Linked DNA regions of Homo sapiens. The protein of the gene in region 1 purifies or fractionates together with the protein of each later gene. This does not show direct contact. Each region holds a gene or a part of one and is shown on either strand. Other genes may lie near its edges.

Region 1 (3,652 bases):
ATCCGTGCATCTTTTTTTTTTTTTTGAGACTGAGTCTCGCTCTGTCACCCAGGCTGGAGTGCAGTGACGCGATCTCGGCTCACTGCAAACTCCGCCTGCTGGGTTCACGCCATTCTCCTGCCTCAGTCTCCGGAGTAGCTGGGACTTCAGGCGCCCGCCACCATGCCTGGCTAATTTTTTTTTGTATTTTTAGTAGAGACGGGGTTTCACCTTTTTGGCCAGGCTGGTCTCGATCTCCTGACCTCGTGATCCACCCGCCTCGGCCTCCCAAAGTGCTGGGATTACACGAGTGAGCCACCGCGCCCGGCCGGCAAATATGTGCATCTTAAAGCAAGCTTTGGAGAGCCCCACTTGGTAAGACTCTAAATAACTGTTAAGATTATAATTGAGAGAAAGTAATATAAAAATGAAATGAATGTGACTAGCATTGCAGTAGAAAGCATGCTTGCCTAGGAGCCCAGAAAACAAGTTCTGTGTACTTTTAACAAGACGTGATCTTGGGAATTTCACATAGCGCTTCAGCGGCTTTGCCTGCTGCACTGCAAAGCAAGCTTCAGTAAAGGTCTGCCCTGATCTCACCGGGACACTTTAGGATTAAAGGTGAGGAGGAGACGAAAGTATATAAACGTACACCAGGTAATTAGACTTTTAGGGATGCTGTGCTGCTGTGGCCTATTTTTTGGAGTAGAGCTGTCAGAAGGCAAAAAACTAAGAGAACCACCATTAAAAGAGACTATCATTTAAAGATCCAAATGGGTTAAACACTGCATTTGCATGTAAATACTGTATCACGGGAAAACTAAGCCTCACTGACCCAACCCTCCATTCGTTCACCAACCTCACAACAATCTCCTTTAGTTGGACGGATTTACTTCAACACATCTGAAATCAGCTACCTTGGGGGAACTGGGATACTGACTGGGAGTGTTATGACTTTCCTGTATTCAATTAAGAGAGAACAGGCCCAGAAGAGGGCAGTGACTGTGGAACCAAGGCCATCACCAAAGAGCCTCTCTGACTTTAACCACAAGGGTTGTGGAGCAAGAAGAATACGAAAGGGATGTGGGGGTGGGGTGGACATTTACTTAGCACCTGTCGGGTGCCAGATGCTTTCTGTACACTGTTCAGTTCAATCCCAACAAAAGCCCACTTCACTGATGAGAAAGGGCCATGACACAGAAAGGGCACCAGGTCTCCCTGAACATGTCCAGGCAGTTCCATGCCCCAGTGCTCTCACATCTCCCATCAATACCAACACCTCAGTAGTGAGACCACACCAACCATTATCTTCCAAACATCTGAAATAAATCAGTGTTAAGGGAGAAGTGCAAAGGAAATGAAGGCACGTCTGAGATGTCAGTCGAGAAGAAAATTAACTAACATAAAAGACATGCTAGGCTGGACAGAACAGGGCTGGGCATGGCAGCTCCCGCCTGTAATCCCAACACATTGGGACGCCAAAGCAGGAGGATCACTGGAGCCCAGGAATTTGACACCAGCCTGGGCAACAGAGTGAGACTCCACTTCTGCTCCCACCAAAACAATTAGCCAGGCCTGGTGGTGTGCGCCTGCAGTTCCAGCTACTCTGGAGGATGAGGTGGGAGGATCACTCGAGTCTGCAGCTGTGATCGTGCCACTGCACTCCAGCCTAGACGACAGAGCGAGACCCTGTCTCAAAAAAAAAAAAAAAAAAAAGAATGGACAGAACAAAAAAGCAAAGTTAAGCAAAATCAAGTAATCAAGTACTTCCTGAATGCTCTTTACAACTACATGACATAGACAATAGAGTATTTATTCACAACAAAAAGGAATCGACACAAGAACCACCCACAGCACACAATTACGCACTTATCAAGCCTATCATTAAAATAATCACCATGAGACACTAGTGACAGCCTGGAGAAAAGGTACAACTGTACCTCGATTCCAACTGTGTGGTGAAGGATGCTGACTAAGAGAACATGCTCCATCATCAGTCTGCTGGGCATGGCCGAGGCAGTGACGCAGGCACCCATGAGAGCGGAGGTCAGGGTGTCATTCATGTCCTTTCTGCTGTGGGCCATGTACAGTTCCTCCAGCTGCCCACTGATGGAAGCCATGTTGGGTTCACTCAACCTGCAGAGAATTGTAAAGACAGAGAGCAACAATGTTTCCAATTAGGAATTTTCAGTTCAATTTTAAAAAATTAAAGAGTTATCCATACCAACAATATATTCTATTTTTATGTACACTTTTGACCCCTTAACTATTCTTATCTTGCCCCAATAACCCAGCATATATTATTCATAACCAGATAATATTCTGGAATCCCAAAACAATGTAATTGCTGTCTTTACAAGATGAAATGTGGCCACACTGAGGCATACCCTGGATTAAGTCTACAGAAACATACGTGAGGATACTCCCCTGAATATTCTGACCTGATATCCCATAGGCAGGGTCCAGCCTTAGGACGTGTTGTTAGAAAAAATGCTAACGTTTTATTTCTTAGGTGGCACAAAAATCCTTAGTTCCTAACACTAGAAAAGGCTGCTCTGTTTGAACGGGTAGTGGGGACACTACACACATATGTACGTGGAAGGTTACTCACTGTGAACCTGTGCTAATACTGAACTCGACACTGAAACAGAGGTTTATATAAATTCCCAGGATAACAGGAAACAAAAAGCAATACAAGGGGGAAGGGGGTGGGTGAGGCCATGGAGGGGCAGCAGGGGAGAGATGGTGGTGAGTTTTATCTCAATTGCAGCGGTGGTGACTCGAATCTTCATGTGATAAAACTACAGAACTGCCCCGGTGCGGTGACTCATGCCTGTAATCCCAGCACTTTCGGAGGCTGAGGCGGGCGGATCACCTGAGGTCGGGAGTTTGAGACCAGCCTGACCTACATGGAGAAATCCCGTCTCTACTAAAAATACAAAACTAGTTGGCGTGGTGGCGCATGCCTGTAATCCCAGCTACTCAGGAGGCTGAGGCAGGAGAACTGCTTGAACCTGGGAGGTGGAGGCAGAGGTTGCAGTGAGCCGAGATAGCGCCATTGCACTCCAGCCAGTGCAGCAAGAGCAAAAACTCCATCTCAAAACAAAACAAAACAAAACAAAAAAACCTACACAGAATCACATGCACACACACATCCTCAAAACCAAAGAGCTGATGGGCACGTGTAACTGACAAAGCCCCACCTGTATGGTTTCCAATCAGTTTTTTAAATGTTCTGTTCTTAAAGTGGGTAACAACAAAATGCAGACATGAGCAATGAGTAAGGGGGATGGAAGACCAGGTGAATGTGTTTCTGCAGAGAGGGGACATAAGCCAGTCCTTCCAACACTGTCCTTAGACGGACAAAGAACCTCTGCCCCTTTCCTTCCTGCTTCTCAGAATAACAATGTGAGCATTTGGGCTGCTCTCAAACCCTAAAGGGATTCAAAGTAGCCAACAGTCGGGTATCCTCTCCTTCTCGAGGTATGGGTCTCATGGGTCTCGGTGCATCAAGCCAAGAACAGAAAGGATCCAATCGACTGTCCCCATCACTTCTATTTGAATTGCTGGGATAATTCCTACATTTTAGGAAACAGACAACCTCTCTAAGTGACACAGTGTAACAACACTACAAGGTCACCTGTTAAGTAGACCTTTTACATGTTTCTTCAGC
Region 2 (3,652 bases), on another chromosome or scaffold:
TGTTTACTAACTAGTTGCTGTTACATTTTAAATGTAATGTTGAACATTTGTGTTAACAGCTTAACTGTCAGGGGCAGGTTTGATGGTGTAGGTGGTATTTCTTTGAACAGTTTGCAGATATTCTGCTTTTGTATAATTACCCCATGCAGTAATTTGATTTGCATTTCTTGACTGCAGAGAGAAAATATCTTATATCTACACTAATAAAATTTTGTTTTTGGCTTTGTTTTTCTAGATGTTGGAGAAGAGCATCAGTCTCCAGGTGGCATTAGGTAAAAAAAACATTAATATTTCATTTTTAAACCTTTGGGGACATAGCATAGTCACAGTAAATGATTCAGAAGTTGCTTCCATTTGAAATTATTTTGAGCTGTAAGAGAAATTAACTTCAGTTTTGATACTGCATTTAGATTCCATGTTGAGCTTGATTAGAACTTAAACCATGTAATCTACTTACATAGCTTAGAAATCATGTCTTGAGTATCTTCTGTGTTTGGACTTATTCCATGGTAGGCACTAATGTGAAATATGGGTGTTTTGGCCAAGGTTTTGAGATTTTATTGGAATCTTTTGTGTTGTGATTTATCTGTTAGTAGGTCTTTTAATATAGCAGATCACCAGACAGTATTACAAAGTCAGTTGTTTCTTAACTTTTAATGCCATTGAGTTGTCATCACCCTGTCTTTATCTAGGATTTATGTCTTTTTAGTTTCAATTATTATTCTTTGTGATAAAACAGCTAGATTTCAGTCCAATTAGGTCATTAGGATGAAAATGCTAGATGACTTTATCAGTGTTTGGCTACCTCTTAAAAAATTACCAAATAAAATCCCCTCAGACATGTTCGCTACAACCAGAATGTCTCATTTCTATTTACTTATTTTTAGTAGTGAAGAGGAAGAGGAGGAGGAAGAAGAGATGTTAATCAGTGAAGAGGAGATACCATTCAAAGATGATCCAAGAGATGAGACCTACAAACCCCACTTAGAAAGGCATGTCTCAGATTTTACTGCAGACATGTTAATGAAATATAAGTAGGAAAGCACTGTTGCATGCTTTTATTTTATCTGTTGCCAAGCTAATGGGTATAGAATTAATTTTAAATGAGTAATTAATTATGCACTTCTTTTGTAAGTCTAACACCTTAATATACCCTGATAATAATCCTCTTTCCCATTTGTAGAACTTTATTTTGATTATATACAAGTTTTTATGAGTCTGCATGTTTTATTTCAACAAGGTATCATGAATTGCCTGAATACTTAGAATTTTTTAACTAATTGTCTCGTTTCTCTTTACAATTATAGTGAAATTTGATTTACAGGCATCTTTAGTCTGGGGAGGGTTCATTCCATGAGCAACATATACATATATTTGGATCATTACTATGCATGTGAGGATGATTGGTAGGAAATCACATTTCATGAACTGAGGAAGGTAGTTTTATAACAAATCAGTGATAACTCTAAGCTTTAATTTGTTGTCATAGTCTTCCTTGAAAAGATCTTTTGTCTAGTATTGAAATGCATTTGTGTTTTCAGGGAAACCCCAAAGCCACGGAGAAAATCAGGGAAGGTAAAAGAAGAGAAGGAGAAGAAGGAAATTAAAGTGGAAGTAGAGGTGGAGGTGAAAGAAGAGGAGAATGAAATTAGAGAGGATGAGGAACCTCCAAGGAAGTGAGTAGGCAATTATTAAAAATGAAAATCTAACAGATTTTGAACGACTAGTGGAAAAAAGAGTGGGAGTGTGAGGAAGGATGTTGACGTATACATGCTTCAAAATATGTATTTTTTAACTTAAAAAAATTTGGCCTCAAGCAGCTGACAATTTCACTGGAGAGACTCTTAGTAAAAAAATGTTTAGGTTTTTCAGTTCTATTGCAAGGAGAAGGTATTTTTTAATCTTAGTGTTTTTAGATGATACATGGTAGCAACTCTAAAAGTAATACATTGAGATTCTTCTAAGTCTTTCATAGTATTGCATAGTTTATGGAAGGTATATATTTAATCTGTCTTACAGACTGATTTGAAAGTGAAATTACTTCAGGGTAAAATTACTTGCTTGATTTGCCAGATATATCTTTGACTTTATGTATTCTTGGTTATCCTTTGCCACTTGTTCTTTGGCCGTGTGTGTGTGTGTGTGTCTTCAGCCAGCCTTCACTGTGTAGTTTTGATTCAGAATATGTCTACTGTTACCCTGTCTTCAATTACAGGAGAGGAAGAAGACGAAAAGATGACAAAAGTCCACGTTTACCCAAAAGGAGGTGAGGAATTTTTACCCCTACTGTTTTACACCTTATTCCAGTACCAGGCACTTTACTCACAAATTTAGACTTCATGATAATCCTGCAGGAATGGCTATTTAAAAATTTCACAAAAGCAACTTCACTAATGTCCTAGATGCACAGGTGTTATGATCTTATTTTCATTGTAAGAGCTTGAAATTTCTAACAATCTTAATACTTTACCTTTGGGGGGTCATTAGTTTATTTGTGTTACTTTTTAATTCTGTCAAATATTTGCTAATTCTTGGTTACTTCTAATACAAATTCTGTGTAATCTGTATAGTAGTAAAGAGATTTTAATTCTTCCTACTATAAAATAGCTATTCCCAATAGCACAGTTTAAGTCAGAGGCCACTGTGCAGAGTACCACTTTTTTTTTTTTGCTAACTTTTCTTCTGCATTTTGATAATAGAAAAAAGCCTCCAATCCAGTATGTCCGTTGTGAGATGGAAGGATGTGGAACTGTCCTTGCCCATCCTCGCTATTTGCAGGTCAGTGAAGTTGTTATATAAGAGCCTTTCAGGTTGTGTTCCATTACTTGTTCTTGCACCACGAGACTTTAATTTGTTGGCTTGTGTAGGCTTTATCATTGACATGTAATGTCAAGAAAAGTCTTTCTTTAAACATAAAATGACTTTAACCCATTTATGCCTAGTGTTCCATTATTAGAATGCTAAGCTTGGGCAAGTTATTTATATCCTACTGTTCAAGGTCATCACCAAGGTCTGATTTTTCACAAAAATACATTTGCAACCTCCAGCATAAATGGGTTAATCATGATTAGTCCATTTGTGCTGCTATAATAGAGTACCTGAGACTGGGTAATTTACAAAGAACATATATTTATTTATTAGCTTGTGGTTCTGGAGACTGGAAAGTCCAAAAGCATGGTGCCCACATCTCACAAGAGCCTTTTAACTGTGTCAGCCCATGGTGGAAGGGCAAGAATGGGTTGAACTTGCTTTTGTAACAAATCTACTCCAATGATAATATCAACCCATTTATATAAGGGTAGAGCCTTTAAGACCTAAGCACCTCCCATTAGGTCCCGCCTTCCAACACTATCACATTGGGGATTAAGTTTCCAACACATGAACTGTGGTGAACACATCCAAATTCATAGCACCTCCTGTTTAAAAAGAGGTGACTAAGAATCTGAACCCACATAGAGAACTTTCGTTGGAATCTTTCAATATTACAGTAATTCCCAATGTGGTGTAAATACAGAGTAACATTTTATTTTAAAGTGATTTAGAAAAAAAGTAAAATTAGAACTCAAACCTGTGATTTCTTGGGTACTGTGTAGAATGAATAAAAGACTTTTAGTTGAGGTTTTGTTTTTATTTTTCTTGAGTAGATTATTAT
Region 3 (3,652 bases), on another chromosome or scaffold:
AAAGTGCTGGGATTACAGGTGTGAGCCACTGCGTCCGGTCCTGTCTCTGTTTTTATCTGAAATTATGTTAGCCTTTGCCTAGTTATGGTGAATTAACCTTAGCATATGATAGTTCTCTTAATGTTTCCCACCACCCTTTTCAGAGTAAGCAATTTGACGTCTACAGCTTCTTTTCCTTTATCTCTTTGGGTAAATAGCAACCAATTTTTCCTGCTACTTTAGATAGTAGGCAATAACAAAATGTATTCATAGCTCTCAGTAATATTTGTTCTATTGTTTTGTTTTTGAGGTGAAAGGGGGGACCCTACCCTCAGAACATGAGGGAATAATATTTACGTGGCTCACAAAGACCAGTGAGTACATCATATGCATCTCTCACAACTCCCCAGAAGAGGGCCTCCAGCACGAGTCTAGGCTCAGCCTTTTCTGTCCCTCCGAGAACTCTATGAATTGCTGCCAAGTGTTTTAATTTTCCTCAGAATTTCTTTGTAATGTTATTGAGGGTTGGAGGTCCTTTTACAAATTTTGGAAATAAGTAAATCAAATGAGAAGACCATGCTTCCAAACAATCATTCTGTTTAACAGATCCCCTTGATTTAATGCAATTATGAATGCGTTAGTGGTAGTGTAGTTTAAGATCTTTCCCTTGAATGTACAGGCTTTAAAGAAACGAACCTAGGAGTGTATTTCCTATCAAGCAAATGGGTTCTAAGACTTTACGCTTTACACATCATTGATTATAGCGCTGTGCTTTTCCCGTGCTAGGCAATGGATCACTTGGAGTCCTTTATTGCTGAATGTGATCGGAGAACTGAGCTCGCCAAGAAGCGGCTGGCAGAAACACAGGAGGAAATCAGTGCGGAAGTTTCTGCAAAGGTATGCTTGGGTGGCTTCGGTGTCTGGTGTGTTCTTAAAAATACTGGCTTGTCAATAGCTTTTTTTTTTGAGATGGAGTCTCCCTCTGTCACCCAGGCTGGAGTGCAGTGGCATGATCTCAGCTCAGTGCAAGCTCCGCCTCCCGGGTTCATGCCATTCTCCTGCCTCAGCCTCCCGAGTAGCTGGGACTGCAGACGCCCGCCACCATGCCCGGCTAATTTTTTGTATTTTTAGTAGAGACGGGGTTTCACCGTGTTAGCCGGTATGGTCTTGATCTCCTGACCTCGTGATCTGCCTGCCTCAGCCTCCCAAAGTGCTGGGATTACAGGCGTGAGCCACCGCGCCCGGCGTTGTCAATAGCTATTAACTGACCCTCAGCACTGATTGTGTGGACAGTACTCTCTGCCTTACTCCAGTTAAGGATAGAGGGCTGTGATCAAGCATTCATGTGTCATGGAATTCTCATCCCTCAGGAGCTGCTACCTCTGTCTTTTTATTCTCTCCATTTTCGTCCTCTGTACATGGTTTATCATTATTTTTTAATTTTAATATATTCTTCGCTGAGTTTGGTGGCTTATGCTTGTAGTCCCAGCACTTTGGGACACCAAGGTGGGGGCAGACTGCTTGAGCCCAGGAGTTTTAGACCTGAGCAACATGAAGAAACCCCATCTCTACAAAAAATACATATATTAGCCAGGCTTGGTGGTGCACATGTGTATCCCAGTTACTCAGGAGGCTGAGGTGGGAGGATCACTTGAGCTTGGGGAGATTGAGGCTTCAATGAGCTGTGATCATGCTACTTTGCTTCAGCCTGGATAACAGAGTGAGACCCTGCCTCAAAAGAAAAAAAAATTATTGTCGGTTTTTTTTTTTTTTTAAGAGACAGAGTCTTGTTCTGTCGCCCAGGCTGGAGGGCAGTGGCGTGATCTCGACTCACTGCAAGCTCCGCCTCCTGGGTTTACGCCATTCTCCTGCCTCAGCCTCCTGAGTAGCTGGGACTACAGGTGCCCACCACCACGCCCAGCTAATTTTTTGTATTTTTAGTAGAGACGGGGTTTCACTGTGTTAGCCAGGATGGTCTCGATCTCTTGACCTCGTGATCTGCCCGCCTCGTTTTCCCAAAGTACTGGGATTACAGGCATGAGCCACTGCACCCAGCCATCTTTTTTTTTTTTTTTTTTTTTTTTAATAAAGATGGAGTCTGTTGCCCAAGCTGGTCTGGAACTCTTGGGCTTAAGCAATCCTCCCGCCTTGTCCTCCCGAAGTGCTGGGATTACAGGTGTGAGCCAGCATGCCCAGCCTCTGCATGTTGTTTTAAACTTTAATATCTCCACATAAAACTGGAAAGAATTGGTAAGGAAATGGTCAAACTGTGGTACATCCATATCATAGAATGAAAAGGAGGTAGATTTATATGTAATTAGACTGAGTGCCATTTACATCACTCTTCTGTTTTTCTCTTCAGTGGAACTAAGCCTCTCCTTGTTTTTTCTTTTCAGTGTTGTAAAAGCATTTCTTAGGATTTATGCAATTGCTAATTTGACCAACGGTGCTATTTTGTTTCAGAAGGTAAATCCTAGTAATTAGGTATTTTGGTTACAGCTTAAATCTGTACATTTAAACCTAGGCATTTTATTACCATACCCAGAAGAAAAAGTCATAAAGAGAGACAGCCTAGACAATGACCAATCTGTGATGATCCTTGGAAGCATGTCGGAAGTGACAAAGGTGCCACTGGTTTCATTGGAACATAGGACTCGTTTATGGTTACAGTCTCAATGCTGGCAGTAAGGATGCCTTCATTGTTAAGTGTGGATCTTTAGCTCTTCCACTTATTTTCAGACTGGAAATGGAGCAGGAGAAACCCTTGTTGCCTTTGCATTCACTTTCATTTTCAGATGTCTGCTTACCTCATTCTTTCTCCTCACAGGCAGAAAAAGTACATGAGTTAAATGAAGAAATAGGAAAACTCCTTGCTAAAGCCGAACAGCTAGGGGCTGAAGGTAATGTGGATGAATCCCAGAAGATTCTTATGGAAGTGGAAAAAGTTCGTGCGAAGAAAAAAGAAGCTGAGGTTGGTGAGATAAGTGCCTTAGGGCAAGAGAAATCTTAGTAATTTGGCAGCGTTGACCGTTGGAATTAATTGAGCCCATGCTTGCTCCCATTTTTTAAAAAATTTATACATTTTGGGCCCAGCACAGTGGCTCACGCCTGTCATCCCAGCACTTTGGAAGGCCGAGGCGGGCGGATCACGAGGTCAGGAGATAAGACCATCCTGGCTAACACAGCGAATCCCCGTCTCTACTAAAAATACAAAAAAATTAGCCGGGCATGGCGCCAGGCACCTGTAGTCCCAGCTGCTCCGGAGGCTGAGGAAGGAGAATGGCGTGAACCCGGGAGGCGGAGCTTGCAGTGAGCTGAGATTGCGCCACTGCACTCCAGCCTGGGCGACAGAGCGAGACTCTGTCTCAAAAAAATTTATAAACGCTGTTTTTGCAAGCAGTTTTAGCTTCATAGCTAAATTGAGAGGAAAGTACAGAGATTCTCCATGTACCCTCTCCTCAGACAGCCTCCTCCATTCCTAGCATCTGCCCACAGTCAGTGGGTCTACGTTGACTTGTCATTATCACCCAAAGTCTGCAGAAAATGTTAGGTATGTCATGAATACATAAAATATATGAGGATACTAGTCTTTTATTTACTGCCATAAAATATACACAAGTCTATTATGAAAAGGTAACATTTGTCAAAACTTAAGCATATGGCCAGCTATGGT

Evidence for each region.
Region 2: the proteins of NOM1 (region 1) and ZFP91 purify together in Homo sapiens (affinity purification with mass spectrometry; one large-scale study listed by BioGRID and IntAct). This does not show direct contact.
Region 3: the proteins of NOM1 (region 1) and LUC7L purify together in Homo sapiens (affinity purification with mass spectrometry; one large-scale study listed by BioGRID and IntAct). This does not show direct contact.

What each region holds. Positions count from the first base shown.
Region 1 is NC_000007.14:156,952,566-156,956,217, reverse strand, and holds part of NOM1 (nucleolar MIF4G domain-containing protein 1), read right to left. Parts: coding exon 3,620-3,652; intron 2,116-3,619; coding exon 1,920-2,115; intron 1-1,919. UniProt on the Homo sapiens protein: Plays a role in targeting PPP1CA to the nucleolus.
Region 2 is NC_000011.10:58,610,063-58,613,714, forward strand, and holds part of ZFP91 (E3 ubiquitin-protein ligase ZFP91), read left to right. Parts: intron 1-235; coding exon 236-272; intron 273-887; coding exon 888-992; intron 993-1,541; coding exon 1,542-1,676; intron 1,677-2,215; coding exon 2,216-2,266; intron 2,267-2,699; coding exon 2,700-2,778; intron 2,779-3,652. UniProt on the Homo sapiens protein: Atypical E3 ubiquitin-protein ligase that mediates 'Lys-63'-linked ubiquitination of MAP3K14/NIK, leading to stabilize and activate MAP3K14/NIK. It thereby acts as an activator of the non-canonical NF-kappa-B2/NFKB2 pathway.
Region 3 is NC_000016.10:205,302-208,953, reverse strand, and holds part of LUC7L (putative RNA-binding protein Luc7-like 1), read left to right. Parts: intron 1-289; exon of another isoform or gene 290-353; intron 354-765; coding exon 766-876; intron 877-2,806; coding exon 2,807-2,950; intron 2,951-3,652. UniProt on the Homo sapiens protein: May bind to RNA via its Arg/Ser-rich domain.